Linked DNA regions of Homo sapiens: all the other regions are linked to region 1. Evidence: fine-mapped expression QTL. A gene starts in region 1. Each other region holds a variant in brackets. All regions are shown on one strand. Distances are between the middles of the regions.

Evidence for each region.
Region 2: its variant is fine-mapped to the expression of NOG in whole blood (TOPMed, PIP above 0.99). The same link has a PIP of 0.9 or more in blood mononuclear cells.
Region 3: its variant is fine-mapped to the expression of NOG in fibroblasts (GTEx, PIP 0.99).
Region 4: its variant is fine-mapped to the expression of NOG in esophagus muscle (GTEx, PIP 0.94).

What each region holds. Positions count from the first base shown.
Region 1 is chr17:56,590,094-56,598,240 of GRCh38, forward strand. NOG (noggin) reads left to right here and starts at 3,606. Exons shown (of 1, transcript NM_005450.6): 1 at 3,606-5,518. The coding sequence starts at 4,131. The coding sequence ends at 4,829. RefSeq lists silencers at 2,459-2,668, 5,781-5,981.
Region 2 is chr17:56,613,787-56,621,933 of GRCh38, forward strand. No RefSeq gene overlaps it. Among named protein-coding and RNA genes, the nearest start is that of NOG, 24 kb to the left of the region's middle. The variant T/A (reference allele first, on the strand shown) is at 3,933.
Region 3 is chr17:56,751,800-56,759,946 of GRCh38, forward strand. No RefSeq gene overlaps it. Among named protein-coding and RNA genes, the nearest start is that of C17orf67, 78 kb to the right of the region's middle. The variant C/G (reference allele first, on the strand shown) is at 4,881.
Region 4 is chr17:56,694,948-56,703,094 of GRCh38, forward strand. No RefSeq gene overlaps it. Among named protein-coding and RNA genes, the nearest start is that of NOG, 110 kb to the left of the region's middle. RefSeq lists enhancers at 3,776-4,752, 3,777-4,976, 4,753-5,729. The variant A/T (reference allele first, on the strand shown) is at 4,647.

The sequences.
Region 1 (8,147 bases):
GAGAGGTGTGTATCATCCCCATCTTACAGATGAGAGAATGGAAACGGGGTGGTTAAGATGACTGTTTTAAAAAGGTAACACAGCCGGTGAGGGGCACAGCCAGAATTCCAACTTAAATCCACCTGGTCCAAAAGTCGTGGTGCTTCCCTGTCTGGGACATTTCCTCTTCCACCTCTCATATCCCCAGATTTTCTGGCTGTCCCTCATACAAGTGTGGTTCCCTTCTTCATGTAGATGTATATCCTATCTCTCAAATCTCTTCCTCTCCATACTCAGATAAATACATCCTTCTTCATGAAGCTCAGCTAAAATTCAGCTCTACCATTAAGGTCTTAGTACTTCCTAGTCTCTGATACCAACATCCCCAGGTTCACTCAGTACCTAAGCGCATGGGCTACTCCAGTGTGGCACAGAGTTAGGAGTTGCAAGCTTCCCAAATGTGGCATTTCAGAACTTCACATTGAAGAGGGGTAGATATGGTTTGAAAACAGTATAGCTAACATAATTGCTTGGGCTTCTTTTTGGTTATAATAATGTATTTTAAAAACTTTAAACAACATTCAAAGAAGAGCATGATATTGTTATATCTATCAAAAGGGGACATGGATTTTAAAAAGAAAAGGTTATAAAAAACTAGTCCACACTGTTATGGGAATTTATAAATTTTTCTGATGTCCTTTTACTATTTCTTCTTGTGGTTGTCATATCTCCCCTAACTGTACTACAAAAGTCTTGCAGGATGGAGACTGACTATGAATTTTTTCTTCTTTGTATTTTTCCTGATGGTCTTCACCCAGTAGATACTCCATAAACAGGTCACCCAATCTGTTCTCAAGCATGATTTGTTTCTGGTTCCTGAGGGACCTTTTTTGCTGTTCAGTCAAATCTGCTCAGCCCAACTAAATAAAGGATCTGGGTTGGTTTTCAAGCAAAAATAGGTGATTTGAAGGAGAGAAGAGGGGGATTAAAAGAACAGAAACCAGCATGATATAATGTCATTAATTGGAACCTACCATCTCAGGAGGGCTGAGCTAGAGTTTAGCCCTTGAACTCCACTAAATAATTTTCTTAGTTAATTCACATCAGTGACAAAATTGCTCTGGAACATGTAATCTTCATAAGGAAACAAACTAGTGCTGAATCCCCATAAAGCACATAAAAAAGAAAGAGGTATGCTTAGGAGCCTACTATGTGCTAGGTTCTTTTTTTGGAGGGGGAGGAGTTGGGGAGGTGGGAACAGAGTCTCACTCTGTTATTCAGGCTGGAGTACAGTGGTGCAATCTCAACTCACTGCAACCTTTGCCTCCCAGGTTCAAGTGATTCTCGTGCCTCGGCCTCCCAAGTACTTGGGATTACAGGAGCCTGCCACCACGCCCAGCTAATTTTTTTTTTTTTTTTTTTTTTTTGTATTTTTAGTAGAGACAGGGTTTCAGCATGTTGGGCAGGCTGGTTTCCAACTCCTGACCTCAAGTGATCCGCCTGCCTCAGCCTCCCAAAGTGCTGGTATTACAGGCATGAGCCACCGTGCCCGGCCTGTACCAGGTTCTAATCACACATTATTTCAAAGTCAGCCCAATTCAAACAACCAATGGGTTGTTGTTAACTCCAGTATCCATCAAAGCAAGATCTCCTTTTGAGCAGTCCCTTGATAGTCTAATTCTAGTTGTCTAGACTTTAAAATTGAGGGAAACGCTTTCAGCGGAAACTGCCCACCCCTTTTAATAGAGGTTTTGCAGAAAGACTGTAGTATGCAACAAAGTGTTTTCTTCCTTAGACAGATGATAAACTTTGGGAGTTGGGGTGGGGCAGGTTGAAAGGAAAAACCAGATCTTTGGGGAAAGAAAGTTAAGCGATTTAGGTTGTCACAATGGGACCTCTTAACTCCCACTCCATGGAAGACTGGCAAATACTTGAGTCATCCACTCCAAGTCTCTCTTCTCCAGCTTTTTCCAGATTCCAATCACATTCACCACAAAGAAAACTGAGTTTGCATTTTAAAGCTGAGATTGAGTTCCTCGTCCAAGGGGAAATTAACCGGAGGTGTCCCTTCAGTACCCATCTCCCATCAAAGAGAAACTGCTTCTGAACAAGAGAAAGCATCGTGGAGGTTTATTTAAAATCACAGAAAGGTAGGGCTGGAAGAGAAATCTATTAATAGTTACGTCACTAATGCGAAAAGTGAGAAAAATGACTTGTCCGAGTTATATCAGGGTGGACCCCGGGCAAGACTCAGGTGCCTCTGCTGTCAGCTCACCTTTCAAGTTTCTGGTCCCCACTCGCACCCACTGAGACCAGAGACCGATTTACCTGAGGCAGAAGGTGCTGCACGCATTCTTGTGAAATTTGAGGGGACCGAGAAGGAATCTCAGGAAGTTTGTTTACACTGGGGGCCTGGAGACCTTCGGGAAAATAGCCAGAACCAAAACGGACCAGTCAGCAGACGCAGACACACACAAAGTGACAGGGACACAGAAGCAGAAGCTGAACTGGGCAGAGCGGGCAGCGGCCGACCCACCTCGCACGGCCGCCCCCGCCAGCGCCAGGTGCAGGGCTCATAGCGGGCCAGCAGAGGGCGCGCCGCCCCCAGGGAGCCGAGCGGCGGCCGCGCGGAGCCGGGCGGGCTAGGGGAGCCGCAGGCGAGCCAGTCGCGCCCCTGAGGCTAGGCCACTCAGGGTGCAGGACCCGGCCAAGGAGGAGGAGGATGGTGAGGAGCGGAACCCCCTCGTGGGCCCGAGGGGCAGACAGACAGGAGTGCTTCCTAAGAATTACATCACGCTGCGCAACGCTGCGGCTCTCGGACTCCCTGGTGCAAAGGGGGGTGGGGTAGGGGCTGTGTGTGTGTGTGTGTGTGTGTGTGTATATATGTGTGTTGGGGGGAGGGGACTTAGAGCAAGAGCCCGGGAGAGAAGAAGACGCGCTCGGGGAAAACGCTCCATGCACATGGAGAAATTTCTTGCTCCGAACTGCATGCACCGAGAAACGAGCCCCCAGCACTTCCCCGCTGCTCCCCTCCCAGTGCAAAGCACCCAGCTAGTGAGAAACCCTCCAGCCCCACCTCAAGCACCGCCCCCCCTCCCCAAACACCGGCTCTGCACCCTCCAGCCCGGCTCCAGCGCCGCCGCGAGCTTTCCCCAGGACTGGCCCTGGCGGGGCGCCTAGAGCCCCAGTTGCATTGCTCCAGGAGAAAGGAGGGGGGCGGTGCATTTTGCAGGAGGAGGAGAAGGGGGGTGGGTGGTGGGGGAGAGAGAAAATTGCGCGGAGACCTGCCAAGCGCCACCGCCGCCGCCACCGCCGCTGCCGCCGCCGCCGCCGCCGCCTGTGAGCTCCGGCGGGCAGCCGGACTGTCGGCTTCCCGGGGCATCTGGGTCCGGCGGGGCACAGCCCTGGGCGCTGCCGAAGCCGCCGCCGCCGCCTCCGCGGCGAGTACAGGCGGCTTCCCCCGGAGCCTGTGCAGCTCCAGCTCCTCGGGGGTGGAGAAGTGGGGGGTGGGGTTGTTGTTTGGGGGGAAGAAGGGGGAGGGGGCAACGCCGAGAGAGTCAGTGGTTTCCATGGTGATGGAGCTGAAAGTGCAGGAAATTTAAAGGCTTGGACCCTGCGAGACAGACAAACCGGTGCCAACGTGCGCGGACGCCGCCGCCGCCGCCGCCGCTGGAGTCCGCCGGGCAGAGCCGGCCGCGGAGCCCGGAGCAGGCGGAGGGAAGTGCCCCTAGAACCAGCTCAGCCAGCGGCGCTTGCACAGAGCGGCCGGACGAAGAGCAGCGAGAGGAGGAGGGGAGAGCGGCTCGTCCACGCGCCCTGCGCCGCCGCCGGCCCGGGAAGGCAGCGAGGAGCCGGCGCCTCCCGCGCCCCGCGGTCGCCCTGGAGTAATTTCGGATGCCCAGCCGCGGCCGCCTTCCCCAGTAGACCCGGGAGAGGAGTTGCGGCCAACTTGTGTGCCTTTCTTCCGCCCCGGTGGGAGCCGGCGCTGCGCGAAGGGCTCTCCCGGCGGCTCATGCTGCCGGCCCTGCGCCTGCCCAGCCTCGGGTGAGCCGCCTCCGGAGAGACGGGGGAGCGCGGCGGCGCCGCGGGCTCGGCGTGCTCTCCTCCGGGGACGCGGGACGAAGCAGCAGCCCCGGGCGCGCGCCAGAGGCATGGAGCGCTGCCCCAGCCTAGGGGTCACCCTCTACGCCCTGGTGGTGGTCCTGGGGCTGCGGGCGACACCGGCCGGCGGCCAGCACTATCTCCACATCCGCCCGGCACCCAGCGACAACCTGCCCCTGGTGGACCTCATCGAACACCCAGACCCTATCTTTGACCCCAAGGAAAAGGATCTGAACGAGACGCTGCTGCGCTCGCTGCTCGGGGGCCACTACGACCCAGGCTTCATGGCCACCTCGCCCCCCGAGGACCGGCCCGGCGGGGGCGGGGGTGCAGCTGGGGGCGCGGAGGACCTGGCGGAGCTGGACCAGCTGCTGCGGCAGCGGCCGTCGGGGGCCATGCCGAGCGAGATCAAAGGGCTAGAGTTCTCCGAGGGCTTGGCCCAGGGCAAGAAGCAGCGCCTAAGCAAGAAGCTGCGGAGGAAGTTACAGATGTGGCTGTGGTCGCAGACATTCTGCCCCGTGCTGTACGCGTGGAACGACCTGGGCAGCCGCTTTTGGCCGCGCTACGTGAAGGTGGGCAGCTGCTTCAGTAAGCGCTCGTGCTCCGTGCCCGAGGGCATGGTGTGCAAGCCGTCCAAGTCCGTGCACCTCACGGTGCTGCGGTGGCGCTGTCAGCGGCGCGGGGGCCAGCGCTGCGGCTGGATTCCCATCCAGTACCCCATCATTTCCGAGTGCAAGTGCTCGTGCTAGAACTCGGGGGCCCCCTGCCCGCACCCGGACACTTGATCGATCCCCACCGACGCCCCCTGCACCGCCTCCAACCAGTTCCACCACCCTCTAGCGAGGGTTTTCAATGAACTTTTTTTTTTTTTTTTTTTTTTTTTTCTGGGCTACAGAGACCTAGCTTTCTGGTTCCTGTAATGCACTGTTTAACTGTGTAGGAATGTATATGTGTGTGTATATACGGTCCCAGTTTTAATTTACTTATTAAAAGGTCAGTATTATACGTTAAAAGTTACCGGCTTCTACTGTATTTTTAAAAAAAAGTAAGCAAAAGAAAAAAAAAAGAACAGAGAAAAGAGAGACTTATTCTGGTTGTTGCTAATAATGTTAACCTGCTATTTATATTCCAGTGCCCTTCGCATGGCGAAGCAGGGGGGAAAAGTTATTTTTTTCTTGAAGTACAAAGAGACGGGGGAACTTTTGTAGAGGACTTTTTAAAAGCTATTTTCCATTCTTCGGAAAGTGTTTTGGTTTTCCTTGGACCTCGAAGAAGCTATAGAGTTCAATGTTATTTTACAGTTATTGTAAATATAGAGAACAAATGGAATGACTAATCATTGTAAATTAAGAGTATCTGCTATTTATTCTTTATAATATCCCGTGTAGTAAATGAGAAAGAAGTGCAGAGCAGGATTAAAGAAAACCACTAAAACCGACTGCGCTCCACACTGATTTTCTGTGTTGGTGATTGATGGGGGTGGGAGGGCGTGGGAGGGGGCGGGTAGGGGATGCTGCTGTGCCTCCTACCCCGTTGGGGAAGGGGCTCATCCCCTCGGACTCCCCTCCTGTGGTATGATGGAGGTGACTTAGTTTTTTGAGGGCGTTGGGGGGGGGGGCGATATTCTCTAACCCCTCACTAAAACATCACGTGGCCTCCGCCTAGTCTCCTAGCTTTTCCCCCTATGTCACCAAAGCTCGGGCCTGTAGTGACCTCGACACCCAGCCGGCCCCCTGGAGCTGACCCCAGGCTGGGCCGAGGGGCGGGGGGAGGGTGGGCGGCCGCTTTGTCCTGCCTGACAGGCCCTTCACAATGGGGACACGTGTCTTTCACACCTACCCTGGGGGCGGAGTGCCGCTGAAACTTGACCCCCGAGGAATGGGGAGGGGGGGAGATCAGAGCGCGCCCACCCAGATCCCGCCACCCCTCCCGCCTCGTACCCCCCACCTCAATATCCAGCCCATGTTAACCCTTTGCATGCCCGGAAGCTACGGTGGTACGAACTGAGGCAATCCCTTGGAATCAACAAGGCTCACAGCCTCCGGGATCTTGCAGGTCCGAGCCCCGAAATCCCAGGCCCTCGGCCGGAGGTGCTGGGGATATCAGGGAGATTTGACACTGGCCTCCCCTCTCCCCGGGGACCTAAGGAAGACTAAGGGCCATGGTTTCGGAGGGGTCCGAATCTGGGTGAAAATCACCACCTCTGGCATCTGCTTTTGGGAAGAGAGTATGCCTGTGCTCGGGCACTTTCTCCCCTTGAGGGGTGGGGAGGAGGGAGAAATCGGAACCGGAATCTTTGCGCTTTAAGATTAGATAGGGGCAGAAGGCACGTAACCCATTAAAGGGACGTGCAAAACATCACTCCCACCCCACCCCTTAAAAAGCCAACTCCTTGGGACCGACGCCTGACTCTCGCATGCGTCCCTCCGCCTCAGTCCCCAGTGGCGCCCGTCCTCACAGCTCCACGTGGGCCAGCCTCCTGACACTGCTCAGCGCTCTCTTTATTTATCTTGGACTCCAAAGTCGCTCTCCTTTGCTCCCTCCCCACCTCCCTGCCACCTCTCCGCGCCTCCCTCCCGGCGTTCCTTCCACCCCACCCCCCACCCCCCCCAACCCCCCAAGTCCGGAGTCCCGGCGAATCTATGCTAATTATTTCAAACCTGCGCCTGGTCCCCAGCGCAGTCTCAATGCCCCCGGCCCCGCCCGCCCTGTCCCTCCAGCCCGGCGCTTTCTTCCCTCCCGACGCAGCCTCGATGGCTCCTCATTTCAATAGCCTGGCCCCGGAGCCGAGCCCCCTCCCCGGCGCTGCCTCCGTCAGCCGTGGGACAGACGTTAGGGTATTCATTAACTGAGAGCCGAGGAATAACGGCATTATTCCCCCCAGAGAGGGCACCCTGCCCCCGCGACTATCTGAGGCTTCATTGTAAAAGGATTAAAAGTTAAAGACCTCCATCTTATGATTCTTTCATTTAATCTTCCTGGCGCCTGGGAGACATGCTCGATGGATGATGGCTTTTAAAATATTCCTAATGTCGGCTACCTTAAGACTCCAAGCTGGGCAAACAAACGTAATTTATTTCCAGAAGAAAGGGGATATTGAGATGTTTAAGTTTATGAACTGCCGTCCCCATGTATATTTGTTAAGTTCTGACAAATACCCAAATAACGTTAAAATCAGCCATTCATCACTTATGAATTTATGCAAAACTTTCTGTGCCCCGGGCCAATATTTTTTTAGACAGAGTTTCACTTGCGAGGGGCGGAGGTGGTGGGGAGTGGGGAAGAGGAGGGGTCTTATGCGAGGGGGGCGAAAGCAAGAATTTTCATGCCTGGTAAACACGCGAATTATGCGAAGAGAGTTATTCCCAGCTGGGCGGGCAGCCAAAACTCGGAGAGCGCGCCGAGGCCAGCGCCCCCACCCCCACGTTGGCAATGTCATTGGATTACAATGCGAGGTCTTCCCCTCCGCGACGCCCCCTCCTCCCTCCGCGGGCCCGCCCGCCCGCGCCCCTCCTCCCCACCCCTGCCCACTTGGAAAACCCGCCCGCAGCCGGCGAGCTTCTCGGCTTTCAGAGCAGGAGCCGGTGTGAGCTGGGAGGACGCGGGTTGCAGACGTGACCGGCGACAGACAGACCACCGGATGCACAGAACCAGAGAGCAGGCCCGAAGCCGCTGCGGCCGCGGGAGAGGACCCAGCGGGACCCAGGCAGTCCCAGAAGCTAACGAAGGAAGTGCTGGTCCTGGAACATTGTGCCTAATGCGCAGCTGGTTACCTCTCCATTATTATTAATGCCGATAATACTAATAATAGCATCAATGCGGAAAGGAGGAGAGAGCTCTGGGTAAAGAGGCAAGAAAACTGTCCTCTTCGGTCATCCAGTGCCTATCTCCTGTAAGGAGGACAATTGATCTAGTGACTTCTGCGGTTCTGACACCTGTGTCTATGAATTTATGCGGCTGCTGGGGGGCTGTGTCTCCCCAGAGTGGAGATTTATAACTATTACAGATACATACGTGTCAACTTTTTCAAATACTGGAAGAGAATGGCAAGGTTTCCACCAACCCAT
Region 2 (8,147 bases), 24 kb after region 1:
GTCCCTAGGGGAGAGTTAAATATCATCTCTATGCCTCAGTTTTCTCATTTGTGAAAGGAAAGAAATAATAATGTCCAGTTCATGGGTATAAGACTCTTTACCTCACTTTCAGTTTCTTCAACTAAAAAAATGAGAAAATAACAGTAATTCTACTATGCCAGACTAGAGGCAAGGGGTAGACCCTACTTAATCTTTTTTTTTTTTTTTTTTTTTTTTTTGAGACGGAGTCTCGCTCTGTCGCCCAGGCTGGAGTGCAGTGGTGCGATCTCGGCTCACTACAAGCTCTGCTTCCTGGGTTCACGACATTCTCCTGCTTCAGCCTCCCGAGGAGCTGGGACTACAGGCGCCCGCCACCATGCCTGGCTAATTTTTTGTATTTTTAGTAGAGATGGGGTTTCACCGTGTTAGCCAGGATGGTCTTGATCTCCTGACCTCAGGTGATCCTCCCACATCTGCCTCCCAAAGTGCTGGGATTTCAGATGTGAGCCACAGCGTCCAGCCTTTAAATGTCTTTTATGCTTTGACTACTACTAAGACTTCTGTGAAGAATCTAATAATAATAATAATCTAATAATAATCATTTCTTGAGTACCAGCCATATGCCTAAAACTTAACCCTATGAAGCAAGGTTTATTATTCCTGTTATGTAGAAGAGAAGATTGAGAGTCACAGAAGTTAATTTGCTCTAATAAATAATTTGCAGAATGAATGAATGAATGAATGAACAAGGTACGTCCTCAAAACCAGTGACGATCTGGAGAACAAAGCTTTTGTCTTTTAAGATCTTACCCGGCAGAATCTAGTATAGAATTGATTGCATAATGACATCAGACACAGACTTGGACAAAGTTACAGCCAAGATGTCAAATGAGTTTTCTGAGGCCTCCATCCAGCAGACACACATCATGAGCAGCCTAAGGGAGAACACATCAGGCCAGATTTGAATCTTGCCATTTCCAAATGCAGAGGCTGAGTGCTAACAGTTCTGTGAGTTCCAGATCTGCCAAGTAACAGCTTGATTTTTCATCTCTTTGGGGACACTTGATTCCTTGGATGATCTGATGAGCCAGAGCTGAAGTTTATTTTCAAGTTGAAATCTCACCACTGGTTTCTATTTCTTATGAAAATTGGATTCTCAAAGATCAGTTCCCCTTAACACCTGTGATTCTCAGTTTTCCATAAGCCAGATTTCAAAAAATAAAATACGGTCCTCAGAGTTCAATGACTCTTCTCATACTCTTTACAAATCTTTTGCCTTCTCTGCCACTTGGCACAATATCAAACAAGCCAAGGGAAAGAATGAAGGGGTGGGCACAGAAGCTTGGGGCACTGGGGAAAGCCAGCGTTCTTATTTCACCCCAGTGCTCCACAGACATTTAATGGAGGTCTATCTGGTAAGGTTGCAGCCATTGTCTCATTTTCTGGAAGAGGAAACTGCAGCTTGAAGAGGCCTGTCAACATGATTAAGATACGGCCCCTACCCTGAAAGGGCCCCCAATTCAATAGAAGTGACAGACATAGAAGCCACAACCTATGACCCAATAAGAGTGGGTACAAAGTACTCAAGGTGTGTGGAGGACAGCACAATTATCTTAAAAAGGAAGGCCTCCCTTTGGGAAGCATTTTCAAGTGCAGTGAAGTCATGCCTGACAATGTCATTTGGCTTTGCCTCAAATCAGTTTTTTCATGATAATATGATTATATGCGTCCTGATTTCTTCAACAAATATGTAAAAAGACCCTGTGCTTGAAGATTTTGCTGTGTGATTTTAGACTAATGATTTCATACTTTTTTGCTTTTTGTTTTTTTGGGACAGAGTCTTGCTCTGTTTGCCCAGGCTGAGTACAACGGTGTGATCTCAGCCCACTGCAACCTCCACCTCTCAGGTTCAAGCAATTACCTTGCCTTAGCCTCTCGAGTAGCTGGGATTACAAGTGCCCACCACCACATCTGGCTATTTTTTGTATTTTCAGTAGAGACGGGATTTCACCATGTTGGCCAGGCTGGTGTCGAACTCCTGACCTCAGGTGATCTGCCCGCCTTGCCTCCCAAAGTGCTGAGATTACAGGCGTGAGCCACTTCGCCCCACCGATTTCATATGTTTAAGTTTCAGTCTCTTTATCAGCAGAATAGGAATAATATCATAATCCTTATTAGGATTATTCAAATAATTATTATTTCTCTAGCTACCGCCATACAGTTACTGTGGAACTCTAATGGTGAAATTTGCATCTAAAAGCACTGAATCAGCAGCAATGTCCTATTTATTTGTGAAGGATTGTATTGTTGCCACTGTTGAAGACATCCCTTTATTTCTGAGTGACTAGACATTCTATATTGATTCTTCAGTAAATTAAATCTTGTCCCAAATACTGATCACACCAAGAAGGTCTCCTTTTCCTTCACATGCTTTGGATAAACAGAATTTCTCAACCTTGACACTCTTGACATTTTGGGCCAGACAATTGTTTGTTGGAAGGCAAGGAGCAGGGGCTGTCCTGTATCTTGCAGGGTGTTTAGCAGAATTCCTGGCCTCTAACTCCTAGATGCCCATACCCACCCCTTAGTTGTAACAGCTACAATGTTTCTGGACATTGCTACATGTCCATGGGATTGGAATGCAAAATTGCAAAATTACCTTGTTGAGGATCACATCAGGATCACAACCTACCCGTAGGAGGTATGCCGGGCTGGGGTTTCTGCTCACATTTCACAGATGAAAAAACCTGAGACCTAGAACAGGAAGGAATCCATCCAAGTTCACAAAAGGGCTTGAGAAACAAGAGTCCCAACTTGGCTTTCCAGAACACCTATGTATAGAACTGCAGTGCCCTCTGCTAAGGACCTGAAGGGAAGGAGTAAGTCAGAGGGACCAAAGACTGGCCCTGCTCTTTCCCAGTCCTGCCTGAAACCCTCCCAGCCCCCTCTCCACCATTGAGTGGCAGCCCCCCAGGAATGCCTGCTCCTCTTCCTCTCCCTCCCTCTGTCCTAACCTTGCTCCTTCCCTGTGCTTTGGGAGGGGGCTGCCCACTGAATGCTGGAATGGGCGTGGAACCACCATGCAGGAAGGACAACAAATGACAGTGAGGATAAAGCCCAGACTTAGCCCTCTCCAACTTTCCAACTTCAGGGGGATATGCTGTCACCAAGAAGCAAACATTTGGGGGAAAAAAAATCCTCAAAGGAGATTCCTGTGTTGCCATGTAAGGAAAGGTCTTGGCCAGCTCTGGTCAACCTGGGAGAGTTGGGGTGGGGGTGAGCACAGAGAAGAGTATTGCGGTTCACTCCTAATCTCTGCCCCCAGATCTCCCCACTCCCCCTTTGCATCTTTCTTGGAAGGGCCCCTCAGAATCCACCAAAATAACCCCTCCCTCCTCCTTCACCTCCCTGTCCCATTCGCCTTGGCTGTCCCCCCTGCAGAAGGCCGGCATGCAGCCTGGTGCACGGGTTAGGGGTGTGTAACATTTTGTCTGAATAGGCCCCTATGTTCCCATAATTTATAGTGGTAAGTAATCTTATTTGCAAAGCAAGCCCTTACAGTTATAAAAAACAAGTTAATTGACTTGCATAAAAATCAAACATGTAAAAGTTTTCCATCTTAACACAAACAGCACACTGAGCCCATTTGTACAATAGCTATGATGCAGTGCGGCCCGCGTCTGGACTACCTAGGACCCGGCCTCTTTCATAACCCAAAATGGAATCTTAAACCCTGACAAGGCCACATACCAATGGGAGTTACTGAATTTAGAGTCAGTCACTCAACTAATTATACGACGTTTTATTTTTTTTCTTGTGTCAATAAACAAACTTGGGTCTGACTTCTGACACTCAGACCTAGAAGCCAATTAAGAGGCGTTCCCAATATATTACAGGGTCTACAAACAAGGATGGCTTTTCTTGGAAAAGTGAACATCATGTTTCTTTTAATG[T/A]GTGTGAAAATATATGAGTTTCTTAATCACTGGCAACTTAGATGGAGTCCAAGACAGGGAAATCACTGACTCCTGACTCTGGAATGAACAGGGGCTAGATTCTTGATGGGGTTTTTGCGATGGGATTCTCTGGTGAGTGACTGCAGGGAAGACAGCATTCAGGTGTGGCATGACAGAGTTGGTGGCCAGAGGCTGCTTCAGAACCCCAAGAAAGGCAGGGAAGAAGCTTAGTGGTGGCAGGGTCTTCTGCAGAAAACAATGAGACAATACCCTAGTGACGTGGAGGGAAAATGGTAAACCTGCAGAGGCATCTGTTGCAAAGGGTGTCTTACAGTGCCACTCAATTATCCCCAAACCAAGAGCCCATTTCACGGTAAGGGGAAGGGGGAGGAAAATTAATATTTATCAAGTTCCAATGATGTGCTGGGTGCCTTTGTTTTCTGTATCCTATTCAAGCCTCAGGTGATCTGCCAAAAAGATATAATTGTTCCTGTTATACAGATGAGAAAATGGAAGCCTAGAGAAGTGGAATGACTTGGTCAAGGCCACTCAGCAAGTTCATGGCAGAGCCAAGGTCAGGGCTCATTCTATTCAGTCCTGTTCCTTGCACATTGCTCTGGGGGGAGCAGGCATAGTCATGGCTGGAGCTCTTAGCAACTCAGGATCAGGTGTGATCTGATGTGTCCACTCTTTCTGGAAAATGGCTCCACCTACCTATCAATATCTATTGAATCCCTACTATGTGCCAGGCACCATGTGAGGAGCTATACATCCCAGGACATGCAACACTGTTTCAGGGGAGACAGACTAGAAAATCAACAATAATAAGAATTTGATATATGTTCTGATGGACGCATTCAGCTGGACGGTGGGGGTTAAAGTGGAGGTGAGGTCAGGAAATACTTCTAAGAGTGAGTGAGCTTTCATCTATGACTTAAAATCCCAAGGTGGACAAGCAGGGAAAGAGCATCCAGGGGCAAGGACCAGCATGGGCAAAGGCACGAAGTGGGAGAGCAGAGTGAGCATGGCCCTTCGGGATCCCTTCATGGCTGGGAGAGCCAGCTCTTGGGGACAGGAGGAAGACTCGGGCCAAGGCTAGGCCTAAGACCAGGAGGGCTCACTGAGACAGGCAGGGGGACTTAGGGGAGTATTGTTTTCTGAGAAAGACATTGCTGCCCATACTTGGGGAGGGACAGACTGTTGACAATAATCAAACCTGAACTGAAAAGATAGGATGGCACCCGGTACCAGGGCTCAGGACCAATGCAGCACAGAAATGGTTAGGAGTAGGGTTTCTGGAGCAAGTCTGCCTGCACCTGAATGTTGGCTTAGTGTGACCCTGGGAAAGAGACATGACTTCTCCATGCCTCAGTTTCTCCCCTTCAAAATAGGATAAGAAGAGTACCTAGTACACAGGTTTGTTGGGAGATCTAAGTAAGCTTATGCAAGTAAAACTCTTGGAACACTTTGTGGCGTATAATAAGAGCCTAATACATGTAAGCTGCTGAAGAGTTCTCATTTATCTTTCCCTCCACCTTATAGGCTTTTCCACCTTGGACAAGTCTCTAATCCTCCCAGTAATAGGGGATCTGCGGGCTCTTGGTTCACCATAGGTGCTCAATGAATAACAGCTGTCATCATTGCTTCCACCATCATTATCACTATCTCTGAAATAACAATGTTTTGCCTTCCCAGGGGAACAAGTGTCACAGCCACCATCTCCTCACCACGAACTGTCCGGACAGGCTGACATGCCACCCAGGCAGGCAAGACAAATGGACTTGCCACCTACACGGAGCACACGTGCACACCAGGGGCACGTAGCCCAACTCGTTAGCACAACAGGGCTCCCTTCTTTTTGGCACTGCTTCTCTGCTCTGTATGTGCTTTGCTCAGAGTGGAGGTCCCCGTTATTTATGTTTGGAAAATGCATTCAGGGCAGTTCCCAGAAGCACTTACAGAGCTCTTATTTAATTGCTACTTTATAAACTCACTGCTCCGAAGAGTGAGGGATTGATGGCCCGGCCTGGCACCTGGAGTAGCCTTGCTGCAAATGCTTTTCCGAGAATGGTCTGGGAGCCGTCCTCCAAGGAGGCCAAGGCCCAATGCAGCCCTGGCCTACGTCCAACTCTGGAGGGCACTGTAGGACTCGTCACCCTAATCCCCAGCTTTGGGATGGCAGCGGTTGCCAGTGTGGTCACACATACACACACATACACACACACAGACACACACAAGAAGACCCCTCATCAGTTCAAGACCAAGAATGTGCAGGGGTAGGAGAGGCCTGTCACTCACCGTTCACCCTCCCTTGCCAGAGACCTGCAAAACCCCAGCCATGAGGACATCCCAGGCCCCAGATCTGGGCAGGGTGGGGACACTTTTTTCAGGTCCCACCAAGCCCATCTCCCATTTGCCTCATGCTTATGCGTTGGGGTCCAGCAGGACTGGGCTGGTGTCCCCAGCTCTCCCATGTTCAGAGCAAGTTATTTAATCTCACTGAGCCTTGGTTTTCTCACTTATAAAATGTGGTTTATAGATTCCATTTCTCAGCATCATTGAGGGAATGAAATGAAATTATTATGGTGCCATTCCTGGCATGTAGAAGTAGAAGATCAATAAATGTTATTTATTGGATTTCTACAGCCACAGAAATAAAGGATCAAGTATCTTTCTTGAAGGTCTGAGATTCATCAAGGCTAAACCTCCCATCCAGATAAAATATGGGACTTCATAATGATCCCTTTTATTTATGCAGTCACTGTATGTCATACTATCATGCTTTATGGTTCCCAAAAAGCATTTTACAAGCCTTGTCTCAAATGACCTTCACTAGCCATCAGGGTTTTGATTATGCACCTCATTTTACAGATGAGGATCTAAGGCATGGATCCTACTGGTCAATCAACCAATTTCTGCCTCCAAATCTTGCTTGCATTCCTTTGCACCACATTACCTAGCCCACTCTCAGGTAGACCAAGGCCCATTTGTGCCTCCAAGATGGCTCTCAGTGATCCCCCCTTCTGGGTTCATATGCTAGTACAGTCTTCTCCCATAGCGAAGAGGACAGACCTGAATAGCCAAAAGGATATTGTGGAAGTGACAGCATGTGACCTCCAAGGCGAGATCATAACAGACATCGCTACTTCTACCTTGCTCTCTCGATCACTCCCCATGGGGGAAGCCTGTTGGTACGACACTCAAGTAGCCCTATGGAGAGGTTCTTGTGGTGAGACACTGAGGCTTTCTGCCTAACACCAAAATAAATTTGCCAGCCACAGGACCGAGCCATCTTGGAAGCAGACTCTCCAGCCAAAAACCAAAACTTCCACCTAATCCTGACTACAACCTCACAAGAGATCCCCAAGCTAAAACCATCCAACTCTTACATACCTACCTACTTGCATCCTACACAATACATGCATTTATTTCAGACTACACCAGTGCTATAATTTGTTTTGTTTTGTTTTTTGAGACAGATTCTCGCTCTGTCACCCAGGCTGGAGTGCAGTGTCATGATCTCAGCTCACTGCAACCTCCACCTCCCAGGTTCAAGTGATTCTCATGGCTCAGCCTCCCAAGTAGCTGGGATTACAGGCATGTGCCACCACACCCAGTTAATTTTTGTATTTTTAGTAGAGATGGTGTTTCATCATGGTGGCCAGGCTGGTCTCAAACTCCTGGCCTCAAGTGATCCACCCGCCTCGGCCTCCCAAAGTGCTGGGATTACAGGCATGAGCCACTGTGCCCGGCCCAATACTGTAATTATTATACATATTTACTCTTTTGTTGGATACTTTTATTCTACCATTTTTCTGTAGGGTGTGTTTGTTCACTTTCCAGATAAAGGCAACACTATCACTTCTGTGTGTGTGTAGCCCCCTCAAAGGAGGATTCTAATAACCAGCCTTTTCAAAAAGCAAGTGGTTAGTGTATATTTTAACATTTCAAGACCAACACTTCTTGATCTTTGGCTTGCTTTTCACCTCCCCTGTCCATGTCTTCAGCTCAGACCCGAATTTTTCCCCACTGGACTATAGCAACAGCTTCCTAGCTGGTTTCCTGACTTCCAGTTGCACCTTTCTGTTTCTTCCACGTTAGTGTCATGCAAATACCATCTCATTTTTTTAAAACATCTGCTTTAAAAACCCAGTCACTCCACAGAAGGAAGCCAAGCTCTACAGCATGCCTTACAAGACTTCCTGATGGGCCTCC
Region 3 (8,147 bases), 160 kb after region 1:
AGCCATGTATATTCCATATGCCCAATGTATACTCCCCTGTAGGACCAGGGGAAGCCCATCCAGCCTGCCAGCTTGTATGAGATAGTGAAATTGGAAAGACCACTATGTCTCCTACAAGCACTGCAGCCCTGGCAAGATCTGTTACCCTGAGCCTCAGCCTCCTCCTCTGCAAAACAGAGAAAGAAGGATTTGGTGGGTTGTAGGAAACAGAAGATGCAGGGTAGGGTGGGTTTGAAGAGAACTTCATGAAGGAACTGTTTATGGAGGTGGGAGCAGGGCTAAGGGACCCAATGTGGGATGCTGAGACGCCCAAGGACTAGATAATGTAAAGCTGTTACCTCCCTCAGGGCTGAGAGGCCACCAGCTCTTGCTGGTGACAGGGAGGGACCCACCGCTAAGAGCTGTCACTGTGAGAGACACAGAGCTGTGGCATAGACGGGGCAGAAAGGAAATACCCCAACCTCTCTTCTCGCCCTCTGATTTCCTAATAGTATCTCCCCTTGGACAAGCCCAAAAGGAAGCCAGAGGGCAAGCTAGCCCAGTTAATGTGGTCTATAAGGGTCCAGCCTCCCCTGCATAGAAGGAAGGGCAAAGCATGGATCTGGAAGGGGAACAGCCATCACACCCTCTCAAAGCATGTCCATTAAGTGAAACACTTGGCACAGTGCCTGCCCATAGTAAGCACTCAGTGCATTCTGGTTCCTGTTGTCATCATTGTCAATTGCATTGTTTGGCATGAAAACTGCCTCTTCCCTACAGCTCTGTTCTTCTGTTCCCTCTTCCTCCAGTCTAGGGAATTAACTTGGGTATCCCTTTGAGGCAGGAGAATAGGGTCTGGAGACAGGAAGCCTTCACTTCAGCCTCTGATTGGTCGTGGGCCAATTCTTCATTTGCATAGGGCTGATTTTTCATGGGCCCAGTCTTCATTTGCATAGGGTGTAACTTTACTTCAGCCTCCAATAGGGTGAAACCAATAAGAAATCTCTAAAAGGTACTTAAAGATTTTGCAACCCGTGCTCCTGAGCTGCTCGCTTGAGCCCGCTCCCACTCTGTGGAGTATATTTTCACATCAATAAATCTGTGCTTTTGTTGCTTCATTCTTTCGTTGCTTTGTTTGTGCATTTTGTCCAATTCCTTGTTCAATGCACCAAGAACCTGGATGACTCATAGTCAAGACCCTCCACTGGCAATACCTTGTCTTCTTAGGGAGGAAAAATAAAGATGACAACATTCAGCTCCATTCTAATGATCAAATCTCATCTCTGGTCTCACTTTACAGAGTTTATTAGGGTGCTAGGGACAAAGGGAGCTGAGACACCAAGTGCTCCTTTATCCTCACCAAAGCCTTACTTAGAACCCTTTGCTCAGAATTGATTTATTGATTCCATTTGATTTGTCAAGGAATCAAGGAAATCAATCAGCATTGACTGAGCGCCTATGCTGTCCCCTGCACATTCTATGCTCATACCCGATTCAGCTTAGTAGTTAAGGGCATTCACTTTGGAGCCAGGCCAATCTTAGGCCAGCTAGTAAACTTCTCTAGCCTCCGTTTCGTCCCTGCAAAAATAAGCCTGCTGCCATCCTGCACGCTGCTGTGAGGATAGTTGGAGAAGGCCTGGCACAGAGAAGACCTTCCATAACCTGTCGGTGCAGGTGTGACAGATGAAGAAATGAGCATCAGAATACACAAGGGATTTTCCCTGGACCCACACTAGCAAGCTGCTCTTGAACCCAGGTTTGCCTTGGCCCAAAGCCAGTGGCATTCTGCTCTGCACCCCACATTGTCTCTCCCAGTCGACTTATCCCCATCAGCAGATAGGTGCAGTGTTTCAAAGAAACCAAAAACATTTTCTTCCTTCTTGGTTTGAGAACATATTCTGTATTTTTATTTTTCTGGGAATTATTCTGTTGTTACGGACAGATGGGAACATGGGTGTGCAGCCATTGGCCTCTGTGGATGGCAGCTGTGGACGCAGCTCAGAAAAACATAGGGTAGCAGGAGGGAAGACTTCTGCTTCTTCAGAGAAGCACATCCAAGCAAGGAAACGGAGGGGCTGACCGCAGCCTGTTCTTTGGATTTTTCTTTTATTGATTTTTTAAGGTTTTTTTGTTTTTTGTTTTTGAGACGGACTCTGGCTCTGTCGCCCAGGCTGGAGTGCAGTGGCACAATCTCGGCTCACTGCAACCTCTGCCTCCCGGGTTCAAGCAATTCTCCCGCCTCAGCCTCCCAAGTAGCTGGGATTACAGGCACTTTCCACCACGCCTGGCTAATTTTTGTATTTTTAGTAGAGACGGGTTTTCACTATGTTGCCCAGACTGGTCTCGAACTCCTGACCTCAAGTGATCCACCAGCCTCAGCCTCCCAAAGTGCTGGGATTACAGGTGTGAGCCACCACACCCGGTCTGGTTTTTTCTCTTATTGAAATGGCCAGCCTTGGGTTTTGAGTCAGGACCCTGGGAACCCCAGCCCTATTCCTGGCCCACCAGTAACCCAAAGCTGCTCACTTCCCCAGGTCCCATCCTACAGATCTAGAAAGTAGAGCCTTTTCTCTCTTGAAAGGCTATAGGATGAAGTCAAGTCATCCAAAAGTCTGGGATCCAGGAAGTCCATGTTGTGGGTGATTCCAAAATGAGCTTTGGAGTCAGCTAGACTTGGGTGTGAGTCCTGAGGTGAACTTTATTCTATGTGACCTTGGGCAACTTTCTTCATCCTTCTGGTCCTCAGTTTCCCCATCGGTGAAACAGAGGTAATAAGGTATAACTCCCGGTGTCGTTAGGAGGGTGCAGTGAAGTCAGGGCTTGGGGGAGACTTCACACACTGCTGGGAGGTGCATTTAGGGACAGGGCCTCAGGGAGCAAAAGCCATCCTCTCCTGCCACTCAGGCCGGGGCTGCCAAGAGCAGCTTCCCAGGGCTCTTTAGGCCGAGGCCAGGCTCCTGTCTGCTGGCCTCAAGTCTGAGGGCCTTTCTTGCCTGGGTTTCCTGTTGTCCTCTTTTACTCTTTTAAAGAAAAGAAAAGAAGCATCCTTCCTCTGGAGACCTTTGTCCTGAAGCTAGCCGGGGAATGCTAGAGACAGTCAGTCCATGCTGAGTGTGTTGAGCCACTTTCTGGGTTTAAAAAAATATGTTATTGTTTACCTAACAGTTCTTCTGTGAGAAATGGGTGTCTGTTCCTTTAAACAGAGCACAGGGCAGACAGAGTGGCTCCGGGGTTGTTTGCAGCAGAGAGGAGGGGGAGGGAGAAGGAAGGCATCCTGTTGTTGAGTAGAAATGACAGAGGCCAATGGACAGACAGACAGACAGCAGAGGGAGAGGTCAGCAGAGACCCAAGCAGTGGAGCTCAGCTGTTTTTTTTTTTTTCTATTAAGAATTTGCTTTTTCAGAAAGAAAAAATTTACGGTTTTTTTTTTTCTTTTGGCCTGTATTTTGCCAGTCTAACCCAAGATACTACTGGTTTACTTAAGACCAGGGAATCCTTTTCACCTGAACTTTGCTGGGGGATGGCATTTCAATGTTAAAAAAAAAGGGGGGGGGTCCTGACAGCCTCAACTCATTAAACTTTGTGCAGAAGGTGTTGTGAGCTTTTCCTAAATTCAGCACTTGGGAATAGAAATCAGGAATAACCCATCTTAATAGTTACTGAATGGCCATGCTTTTCCTACATTATCTCCAATCATCCCAACATCCCTGCCAGAGAGGTTTATGCATCCCCATTTTACAGATATGGAAACTGAGGCTCAGGCACATTAAGAGCGTGCTCAAGCTTAGGAAGATACATAGGAGGCAAGTAGCGGGCTGAGGTTTCACCGTGAGTCTTTCCAACATGCCCCACTGCCTCCTTCGTGAACTCAACAACAGGTCCAGTGGGGCACGAAAGGGGAGAGGAGAGAGGCAGGGTGGACTTCCTGGCTGTGTGATTTGCCAGCCTCTAGTATAAATACTTCTAGCAACCCCTTGGCTCTTTAGGGTTCTCCAGCAACAAGGAACAAGCCCAAGATTGTAAACTCCCAAGAGTGGGTCTAATTCAACCACCACCATTGTCAGCAACGTTACAGAGCACTTTAAAAATTTAAGAGGCATTTTGTCAATTGCCACATCAGACTGTGTGACTCTCCTGCTGACATTTAGGAGGTGGCCCCCAAGCTCCTGCATGATTTGGTCTCTGCCTCCTCCAGTCCCATCTCCTTGCTCTCACCCTTGCTCACTATGCTGTCCATAAATCTCTCAGTTCCTCAAACATGATGCTACTGGCATCACCTAGGAGTGGGTTGGAAATTCAGGAGTTCTGCCCCACTCCAGAACTACTGAGACAGAGTCTGCCTTTTAATAAGACCCCCAGGTGCACAGTGAAGTGTGAGAAGCAGCACTCTTGCACATTCAGCTTTTCCACCTCGGGACCTTTGCACATGCAGCTCTCTCTGCCTAGAACACTCCTTTTTTTTTTTTTTTTTTTTTTTTTTTTGAGACAGAGTCTTGCTCTGTCGCCAGGCTGGAATGCAGTGGTGCAATCTCAGCTCACCGCAACATCCACCCTCCCGGGTTCAAGTGATTCTCCTGCCTCAGCCTCCCGAGTAGCTGGGACTACAGGCATGCGCCACTACGCCCAGCTAATTTTTTTGTATTTTTAGTAGAGACGGGGTTTCACCATGTTGGCCAGGATGGTTTCCATCTCTTGACCTCATGATCTGCCCGCCTCAGCCTCCCAAAGTGCTAGGATTACAGGCGTGAGCCACCGCGCCCAGCCACACTCCTTTTTTTAAATCTTGAACTCTGAGATTCATATGTCCTGAGCTCATAATGTCACTTCCTCTGAAAAGTCCCCCTTGACCTTCCAATAAAGTTATTTTTTCTTAAGAGTCCAGTTCTTTTCTTTCATAGCAC[C/G]TATTGCAGTGTGTAATTACATACCGACTTACTGAATGTCTGTCTCCATGAAGGCTGAGGCCATGACTCACTTGCTTACCACGGACATAGTAGAAGCTGCACAGACACATGCTGAAGGAATAAGCATGGTGCTGTTTCTATGCAGCATCAAAAGAGAAGTTCACAGACAGTGTGCACTGGGTATCTCTAGGCATTTGGTCTCTGCATGAGGCATTTGGTCTCTACAGGCATTTTTATTCAGTTTCACCAAATGTTCACTGAGTGCTATTATGTATCTGGAGGTGGAGTCATATGTGTAAGGAGGCCTGGTGTGACAAAGTGGATCCTAGAATTTGGTGTAGCGACTCAGTTGTCTTGTTCAGTGGACAAGGTTGGGGGCTGAATGAAATAGCCCAGGAAGTGTACATTTCTGGTGATTACAGGAACGAACCCTCAGAAGGTGGGAAAGGAAATTAACATTTCCTACCCCCCACATCTGGGCCAGGCACCTACACGGTTAGCAAGTGTCAAAGAGGGATTTCAAATCCACTAGAATAGCATATGAATTGCTTAACTAAAACCTATGCCTTTTGCCTTTTGTTTTAAGTAAAATTAAGAATGCACACAGTTAAAAAATAAGATAAATATAGAAGTGTTTCATCCCTTGCCACCCTTAGTTCCATACTCCAAAGATAACTACTTTTTATCTCTTTTATTTGTTTCTTCTGGTAGCTGATTTCAAATCTCTGAGTATTTTTATTTACCTGTTTCTTGATTTGTTAATTTTATATAGTGGTTATTAATTCTTTCTTATGACATCAGGAAGCAAATTTTACTGTTTTACATCACTCTCACCTCCTTTATTTGCCCCAAATAATTATATCACTATTATATTTGCAAATATAAGTTGATATGGTTTGGCTGTGTCCCCACCCAAATCTCAACTTGAATTATATCTCCCAGAATTCCCACATATTGTGGGAGGGACCCGGGGGGAGGGGGGTAATTGAATCATAGGGGCCAGTCTTCTTCCCGTCCTATTTTTGTGATAGTGAATAAGTCTCATGAGATCTGATGGGTTTATCAGGGATTTCCGCTTTTGCTTCTTCCTCATTTTCTTTTGCTGCTGCCATGTAAGAAGTGCCTTTCACCCCCCGCCATGACTCTAAGGCCTCCCTAGCCATGTGGAACTATAAGTCCAATTAAACCTCTTTTTCCTCCCAGTCTCAGGTATGTCTTTATCAGCAGCGTGAAAACTGACTAATACAGTAAATTGGTACCTATAGAGCGGGGCATTGCTGAAAAGATACCCGGAAATGTGGCAGCAACTTTGGAACTGGGTAACAGGCAGAGGTTGGAACAGTTTGGAGGGCTCAGAAGAAGACAGGAAAACGTGGGAAAGTTTGGAACTTCCTAGAGACTTGTTGAACGGCTTTGACCGAAAGCCTGATAGTGAAATGGACAATAAGGTTTAGGCTGAGGTAGTCTCAGATGGAGATGAGGAACTTATTGGGAACTGGAATAAAGGTGACTCTTGTTATGTTTTAGCAAAGAGACTGGTGGCATTTTGCCCCTACCCTGGAGATTTGTGGGAATTTGAACTTGAGAAAGATGATTTAGGGTATCTGGCAGAAGAAATTTCTAAACAGCAAAGCATTCAAGAGGTGACTTGGGTATTATTAAAGGCATTCCATTTTATAAGGCAAGCAGAGTGTAAAAGTTTAGAAAATTTGCAGCCTGACTATGTTATAGAAAAGAAAAAACCATTTTCTGGGGAGAAATTCAAGCCACCTGCAGAAATTTGTATAAGTAGCAAGGAGCCTAATGTTAATCCCCAAGACCACAGGGAAAATGTCTCCAGGCCCTGTCAGAGACCTTCACAGCAGCCCCCTCCCATCACAGGCCCAGAGGCCTAGGAGGAAAACATGGTTTTGTGGGCCAGGCCCAAGGTTCCCGTGCTGTGTGCAGCCTAGGGACTTGGTGCCCTGTGTCCTAGCTGTCTAGCCACGGCTGAAAGGGGCCAACCTTCAGCTCAGGCTGTGGCTTCGGAGGGTGGAAGCCCCAAGCCTTGGCAGCTTCCATGTGGTGATGAGCCTGCAGGTGCACAGAAGTCAAGAATTGAGGTTTGGGAATCTCCACCTAGATTTCAGAAGATGTATGGAAACGCCCGGATACCCAGGCAAAAGTTTGCTGCAGGGGCAGGGCCCTCACGGAGAACCTTGCTAGGGCAGTGCAGAAGGGAAATGTGGAGTCAGAGCCCCCACAGATAGTTTCTACTGTGGCACTGCCTAGTGGAGCTGTGAGAAGAGGGCCACCGTCCTCCAGACCCCAGAATGGTAAATCCACTGACAGCTTGCACCATGTGCCTGGAAAAGCCGCAGACACTCAACACCAGCCTGTGAGAGCAGCTGGGACGGAGGCTGTAACCTGCAAAGCCACAGGAGCGGAGCTGCCCAAGACCATGGGAACCTACCTTTTGCATCAGCGTGACCTGGATGTGAGACCTGGAGTCAAAGGAGATCATTTTGAAGCTTTAAAACTTGACTGCCCCGCTGGATTTCAGGCTTGCATGGGCCCTGTATGTAATCCCTTTGTTTTGGCCAATTTCTCCCATTTGGAACAGCTGTATTTATTCAATTCCTATACCCCCATTTTATCTAGGAAGTAACTAGCTTGCTTTTGATTTTACAGCTCATAGGCAGAAGGGACTTGCCTTGTCTCAGATGAGACTTTGGACTGTGGACTTTTGGGTTAATGCTGAAATGAGTTAAGACTTTGGGGGACTGTTGTGAAGGCATGATAAGTTTTAAAATGTGTGGACATGGGCCAGGTGCAGTGGCTCACGCCTGTAATCCCAGCACTTTGGGAGGCCAAGGCGGGCGGATCATGAGGTCAGGAGATCGAGACCATCCTAGCTAACACGGTGAAACCCTGTCTCTACTAAAAATACAAAAAATTAGCCAGGCGTAGTGGCGGGCACCTGTAGTTCCAGCTACTTGGGAGGCTGAAGCGGGATAGTAGCGTGAACCCGGGAGGTGGAGCTTGCAGTGAGCCGAGATCGCGCCACTGCACTCCAGGCTGGGTGACAGAGTGAGACTCTGTCTCAAAAAAAAAAAAAAAAAAGTAAGGACATGAGATTTGGAGGGTGCAGGGGCAGAATGATGTGGTTTGGCTGTGTTCTTACCCAAATCTCAACTTGAATTGTATCTCCCAGAATTCCCTGAGCCTCAGTTTCCTCATCAGCAAAGGGGAATAACCCTTATCCCATAGGAATGTTGTGAGGGTCAA
Region 4 (8,147 bases), 100 kb after region 1:
GCCTAAAAATCCTCTGTGCTCTGCCTAGTCATCCTTCCCCCTCCCCTAACCCCTGGCAACCAATGATCTTTTCACTGTCTCCAGAGTTGCGCCTTTCCCAGAATGTCATGTAGTTGGAATCCTACAGTATGTAGCCTTTTCAGTTTGGCTTCTCTCCCTTAGTAGTATGCATTTAAGGTTACTCCATGTCTTTCTGTGGCTTGATAGCTCATTTCTTTTTAGCGATGAATAATATTCCACTGTCTGGATGTACCCCAGTTTATTTATCCATTCACCTCCTGAAGGACATCTTGGTTGCTTCCAAGTTTTGTCAATTTTGAATAAAGCTGCTGCAAACATTTGTGTGCAAGTTTTTGTGTGGACATAAGTTTTCAATTCATTTAGTTAAAAACCAAGGAGTGTGGTTGCTGGATCGCATGGTAAGAGTATGTTTAGTTTTGTAAGAAACTGCCAAACCATCTTCCAAAGTGGCTATACTATTTTGCATTCCCACCAGCAATGAATGAAAGTTCCTGTCACTCCACATCCTCACCAGCATTTGGTGTTATCAGTGTTTTGGATTTCCGCCATTCTAATAGGTATGTAGTGGCATCTCATTGTCATTTCAATTTGCATTTCCCTGATGACATATAATGCAGAGCCTTTTTGTATGTGCTTATTTGCCATCTGTATATCTTCTTTGATGGGGTGTCTGTTAAAGTCTTTGGACCATTTTTTAATCAGGTTGTTTGCTTTTTTATTGCTGAGTTTTAAGTGTTCTTTGTATATTTTGAATAACATTCCTTTATCAGATGTGTCTCTTGCAAATATTTTCTCCCAGTTTGTGACTTGTCTTCTCTTTCTTTAGACATTGTCTTTCACAGAGCAGAAGTTTTTAATTTTAATGAAAGCCAGCTTATCTGTTACTTATTTCACAGATCATGCTTTTATTGTGGTATCTAAAAAGTCATCACCATACTCAAGGTTATCTAGATTTTATTCTGTGTTACCTTCCAGGAGTTTTATAATTTTATATTTTACATTGAGATCTAGGATCCAATTTGAGTTAATTTTTTATGAAGAGTGGGAGGCCTCTCACTAGTTTCAGTTTCTTGCATGTGGGTGTCCAGTTTTCCAGCATCATTTGTTGAAAAGGCTATTAGATCAATGCTTTTGGATTTTAGATTATTCAAAAACCTAAAGAATTGAGGTTGTACAGTGAGGTCACTTGAGCAGAAAGGACATGAAGGCCCTCCCAAGAAGGAGCAGAAAAACGTGCCGTGACTTTGACTAGAGCCGGAGCTGAGAATGTCAGGTGGAGATTCATTGCTCCAGCAACTAACGTGGCAAAGGTGGACCCAGGACAGCTAGGGCCTCACCAGCTTCCTGGTGGCACACCTGCATCTGATAGAATCCCCAGTGGGACTGGATCTAATATGAATAAGCATTTGGAGGGTTGCAACTATAAGTTGAAACTCCATCATTCCTCTTCAGTTCAATGTGGGAGCGTAGACACCAGGAAGGAAAGGCAATCTTCTGATGGAGAGACAGGGTTATGATCAGTTTCAGCTTGAATAACACAGGAAGCGTGGGCTTATTTTTTAGCTTAAGCACGTGAAGCAAGTTATATGAATGAAACTATTATTAATTAATAATTATTATTTACAATATGACATTATTACCAGTAGCAGCCGACACTTATCAAGTACTACTATGTGTGGAGCACTGGACTATGCACGTTGTGTAGATTATCACATTTACTCTACAGAGCTAGGAAGTAGCAGCAACGACTCATTTGACAGCTGAGGAAATGAGACCCAAAGAGGTCAATTAAGTTTTCTATAGTCACTCTGCCAGCATGCAACAGGGCTCAGGTTCAAACTCAACTTGTCTCACTCCAGAGCCTGAGTTAATCACTATTCATGTTTGAAAATAGAGTTTCTTCTTCTTCTTCTTCTTCTTCTTCTTCTTCTTCTTCTTCTTCTTCTTCTTCTTCTTCTTCTTCTTCCTCTTCTTCTTCTTCTTCTTTTTGAAACAGAGTTTCGCTCTTATTGCCTAAGCAACCTCTGCCTCCTGGGTTCAAGCGATTCTCCTGCCTCAGCCTCCCGAGTAGCTGGGATTATAGGCATGCATCACCACGCCCAGCTAATTTTGTATTTTTTGTAGAGATGGGGTTTCTCCATGTTGGTCAGGCTGGTCTCAAACTCCCGACCTCAAGTGATCTGCCCACCTCAGCCTCCCAAAGTGCTAGGATTACAGGCATGAGCCACTGAGCCCGACCAAATTTCTTCTTTTAATAGCAGTGTTTCAGCTGGTTTCTGACTGCAAAGTTGGCTGGGTGTGTGTGGCTTCTCCCTCTGCCTGTAGAAACTCCATCATTCCTCTTTAGTTCAATGAGGGTTATCCAGGATTTGCTGGATACTACGTTCTCTGCCTCAATGCTCCCTTGCCAGATGGCCTTCCTTCAGCAGTATATTAGTCAAGTTGGGCTGCCAGAACAAAATACCATAGATTGGGTGGCCTAGACAACAGAAATTTATTTCCTGACAGTCTGGAGGCTGGAAAGCCAAGACGAAAGTCTGGCAAAGTTCGGATCCTGGTGAGGACTCTCCACCTGGCCTGCAGACAGCTGCCTTCTCTCTGGGTCCTCACATGGCAGGAGAGGGGAAGATTTCTTGCTCTTCCTCTTTTTATAAGGCCACAGTCCTATTAAATTAGGGTACCACCTCATTTAACCTTAATTATGTCCTAAAGATCTTATCTTAAGATATAGTCACATTGGGGGTTAGGGCTTTAACTTATGAATTTGGAGGGGACACAATTTAGTCCACAGCAAGCAGTTACTTTTTTTTTCTTTTTTCTTTTTTCTTTTTTTTTTTTTTTGAGACAGGGCCTCACTCTGTCACCCAGGCTACAGTGCAGTGGCATGATCGCGGCTCACTGTAGCCTTGACCTCCCCAGCTCAAGCAACCTTCCTGCCTCAGCCTTACAAGTAGCTGAGACTACAGGAGGGCACCACCATGCCCAGCTAATTTTTTTATTTTTTGTAGAAACAGAGTCTCCCTATGTTGCCCAGGCTGGTCTTGGACTCCTGAGCTCAAGCAATCCTCCTACCTCAGCCTCCCAAAGTGCCCAGGCCAGAGCACAGTAGTGTGATCTCGACTTACTGCTTGTGCCTCCTGGGCTCAATTGATCGTCCCACCTCAGCCTCCCAAAGTGCTGAGATTACAGGCAGGACCCACTGCACCTGGCCAATTTACTCTTTTTTTTTTTTTTTGAGACAGGGTCTCACTCTGTCACCCAGGCCAGAGTACAGTAGTGCAATCTCAACTTACTGCCTCTGCCTCCTGGGCTCAAGTGATCATCCCACCTCAGCCTTCTGAGTAGCGGAAAGTACAGGCACGTGCCACCATGCTTGTCTAATTTTTGTATTTTTTTAGAGATGGGGTTTTGTTATGTTGCCTAGACTAAGGTTATTCTTATATTCTTTAAAAGAATGAAATTTTCCATGAATGTCTACTCTCAGGTATCTCGATGACCACAGACTTTAGATCTTAGAAGCATCTTAGAGGAAATCAAGCCTAAATTCTTCTTTATTTTACAAATTAATACATGTGATTCCGAGACATTAGGGGATTTGCCTGGAGCCATACAGCTGGTTAATGGCAGAGCTGAAACTAGAACAAGGTCTTCTGATTCCAGTGGTGCAGTGGCACCATTGCAAGGTCTTGGAGGAACAATGATGGTGATGATGATTCAAGACCCTACTGTTTGACAGGCATAGTATGACTTATTTTATACACACCACCTTATTTATTCTTCACAATAGCCTGGTATAATGGGTACTATTATCCACCCATATAGATGAGGAAACAGGCTCAGAGAATGAGATACCTTACTCAAATTCACACAGCTAGTTGGTAAGGGGGGCCTGGATCCAAATTCTGTGCTCCTTTGATTTCACTATGCTCTATTTCCACCGAGGAAGTGGGTTCCCTGGTGGGGCCAGGGAGGTGGCTCTATGGCTATGAGCCAAGATTTTAGGCCAAGTCAAGGTCATGGACTCTTGGGATCAGCCCTGGGGCCAACAGGCTGCCAGAAGTGACAGAACGAAGAAAGGAAAGGAAGGAGAGAAACAGGAGACAAATCTTGATGGCTTCCCCATATTGCCATTGTCCTACTTGGGGAGTTCCACCTTCATCTGTTTTACCCTTTTTTTCCTTTACCTTCGAGCTCTACGTCTCTTTATCAGTAAACTAGCCTTGCAGACAAGTGCAAACTGTGCCAGCCCTTAGGCTGCAAAGGAAATGAAGTTGGCATTCTGTAGTCCTCACCTGGCATGAATCACACACAGCCCCAAGGGACCGGGACAAGGCTACATGTCAGACTGATGGACTATTGTCTGGAGCTTTGAGAGAGGAAAAAGGGAAGGCTGCTTGCAGGAGAAAGGTGAACAGGTTGGCCCCGGCCCAAGAATGACAGAGGCGCCTTGCTCCTGCCACCCGGCTCTGCTCCTCTGGCCCAGGAACAATAACAAGGCGCTGTCAGGAAGTGACACTAAAATGCCTTTCCCCTTATACCTCGTTCAGCCTCTGGCAAAAGGAGGTTCCCGGAGGGAATATTTTTAGTTTGACAAATGAAAGCCTGGGACCGAGGACAGGAGGGAT[A/T]AAGGGAGCTCTTCTCTGACACTCCTGGAGACGGGGAGATGATGAGTCAGATACAGAGGGCTTAGGCACGACTTCTCAAGACATTCCTCAGGCATGAGCACAAGCCAGCCGCTCGAATTCCTCCTGCAAGGCCCGCCACCCGGCAATCAGGGCGGAGGGGCCGGGCCAGAGGAGCAGCTCTGCTCTGTCTTCCTCTTGGCACATTGTTGGACAGCAGCTTTGGAAGATCAAAGCAGCCGCCTGTGTTGCTTTCCGGAACTGGGACTCAGGAGGCCTGGGTTCAAGTCCAGGCTTCACCATTTGCCGGCTGTGACATTAAGTGTCCTCATTTCTCCCTTTATGCCTCAGTTTCCTCATCACCAAATTGAGAGTATTATAACACCTTGGAATTATTATTATGAGGTTGTACATTTGGAAAAAAAAACCTTGAGAATGCAGTGTTTAAAAGCATTGGTTTTCTGTATTGCTCCCAGTACCCCATATGCAGATGGACTCAAAATCTCACACTGGTGGCCACGTGCAGTGGCTCACGCCTGTAATCCCAGCACTTTGGGAGGCAAAGGTGGGTGGATCACCTGAGGTCAGGAGTTCGAGACCAGTGTGGCCAACATGGTGAAACCCTGTCTCCACCAAAAATACAAAAATTAGCCAGGCATGATAAATAGGTGCACGCCTGTAATCCCAGCTACTGGGGAGGCTGAGGCACGAGAATAGCTTAAACCTGGGAGGCAGTGGTTGCAGTGAGCCGAGATTGCACCACGGCACCCCAGGCTGGGCAACAGAGCGAGATTTGGTCAAAAAAAAAATCTCACACTGGTAACAATAATAACCAGTACCTATTGAGTGCTTCTTACTTACCAGGCTTGTGCCAACTTCTCTCACATCCAACCCTCTCAATAGTTCTGTGAGGTAGATCTAATCGTTTCCACCTTCTAGACAAGTATACTGAGGCTCAGAGAGGTGGCATGGGCTGCCTAAGGTCACAGAGCTAACAGATGGTAGGCTGACATTAGACTCCAGCTCCCCCAACTCTGAAGCCCACTTTTCTTTTTTTTTTTTTTAATTATTATTATACTTTAAGTTTTAGGGTACATGTGCACAACGTGCAGGTTTGTTACATATGTATACATGTGCCATGTTGGTGTGCTGCACCCATTAACTCGTCATTTAGCATTAGGTATATCTCCTAATGTTATCCCTCCCCCCTCCCACCACCCCACAACAGTCCCCGGTGTGTGATGTTCCCCTTCCTGTGTCCGTGTGTTCTCATTGCTCAGTTTCCACCTATGAGTAAGAACATGCGGTGTTTGGTTTTTTGTCCTTGCAATAGTTTGCTGAGAATGATGGTTTCCAGCTTCATCCATGTCCCTACAAAGGACATGAACTCATCATTTTTTATGGAAGCCCACTTTTCAAATCCCTGTGCTGGGAACCCTCAGCCTGGGCCTGTACCCAGCAGGAGAACAAGATCAAGGCAGTGCGCTGGGCCAGGCACGAACTGGGGAGCCAGAGGGAGGGGAAGGAGCAGAACAGATAAAGAAATCGGAGGCGGAGCCAGGGTTCAGATGCAGAGCAGCAAGTTGAAGGAGCAGGGAAAGCACCAGGGGCTGGAGCCTGGAACCCTGGCAGCTGTCCACACTTGGTACAAACATGCTTACGGCAATATGGTGGATTGCTGGGGCAGGGAAGGGGGGGTGCACTTAAAAGTCAGAATCCGCTCATCTGATTGGAAGAGAGAATGAGGCAACTAACCATCTGTAGATAGGCTTATTTCTCACTTTTTAAACAGCTGGTTTGGGTGGGTGCTCCTAGGGACTCAGCGCAAAGTCATTGGGTGAATTCTACCCAAAATATGTAAAGCCATGATGAGCAACCCACCCCACAGGCCACACGTGGCCCACCTAGTGTCATTGGGTCCATGATTTAATTTGGGGATGAATAGTAAGAGGCCATCAACGTGTACTGCCTCTCAAAAAATTCTGATAGTGATGATATTTCTTGTTGTTAAATTCAGTGTTACTTCACTCATTAGCATCCTTCTCTTACGTAAGTGATCTAACTCTCGAGAAATCACTTTTAATCCCCTCGTAGGACTTGATACAGTTATTTTGTTTTAAGCAGAAAACAAAAGATGGCTCTTAAAGTCAATTATTGTCTTCTTTAATTCACCCTCAGGAAGGAAGGAGAGGGTGAGAAAGGGAGGAAGGAGGTAGGGGGGAAGAAGAGAGGCAGGCAGGCTACCACTGATGTTGAGTCTCAACATCCTCAAACTGCAGACCATGAACTCTTTTCTCTGTGCACTCATAGGAAGGTCATCCTACTGCCTCCTCGGCCAAGCTAAAACCCAAGAGACTTCTCACCATTCCTCTCTCTCCTTCTCCCAGGGATATCACCCCCAGCATCACTGCTAGGGCTTAGGATATCACTAGTATTCCCAACATCACTCAGTGTCTCCCTAGAAGACCTGTGAGGAGTCTCCTCTCAGACCTCAGTGTCAAGGCAAACAGCAAGTGGCTGCTTTTACCCGGTAGGTGATGTGAGCGAGCGTGTTAGAGGGTCATGTCCTCATGTTTGCGTTGGTCACTGAAAATGTTGAGAGTGGATTTTGCATCTTTCCTTTCAGGATCTCACAATGTGAATGTAGGTTCTCCTGCAAGTGTCCCCACTGACAAGACATGGGACCTTGGGCAAGTCATTTAAACTCTGTGAACCTTATCTGTAAAAGAGAGTTAATTACCACTTGCCTCATACGGCAGATGTGGAAGTGAAATTTAGATGATAGATAATAGATAGATAGATGATAGATAGATAGATAGATAGATAGATAGATAGATAGATAGATCACATGTGCCTAGCATATAATAGGTCATCAATAAATGATAGGTGGTGTTACTATTATCCACAGCAGCACCCTGACACACTATGTATACTAAATTTTCTTTTTTTTTTTTTTTTTTTTTTGAGATGGAGTCTCGCTCTGTCACCCACACTGGAGTGCAGTGGTGCCATCTTGGCTCACTGCAAGCTCCGTCTCCCGGATTCACACCATTCTCCTGCCTCAGCCTCCCAAGTAGCTGGGACTACAGGCGCCCGCCACCACGCCCAGCTAATTTTTTGTATTTTTGGTAGAGATGGGGTTTCACCGTGTTAGCAAGGATGGTCTCAATCTCCTGACCTAGTGATCCACCCACCTGGTCCTCCCAAAGTGCTGGGATTACAGGCGTGAGCCACTGTGCCCGACCACTAAATTTTCTTTTACTGCATTTCATTCAACTACCTTTCTTTTTCTATTTCACAGAATCTCTATCTTTTTACTTTTCATCTTATGGTAGTATGTGTTTGTGAGGTTTGTGGGAGGGAGTTGCAATCCACCTTAATATTGTGGAGCAGAGCAGGTCAAAAAAACCAAACAACTGTAATACTAAAATGAGGACTGTTTTTCCCAGACTCTGCAGCTAGGTTGAAGTTGTTGTCAAGCTCTTTGACTGCAGAATCTCTTGA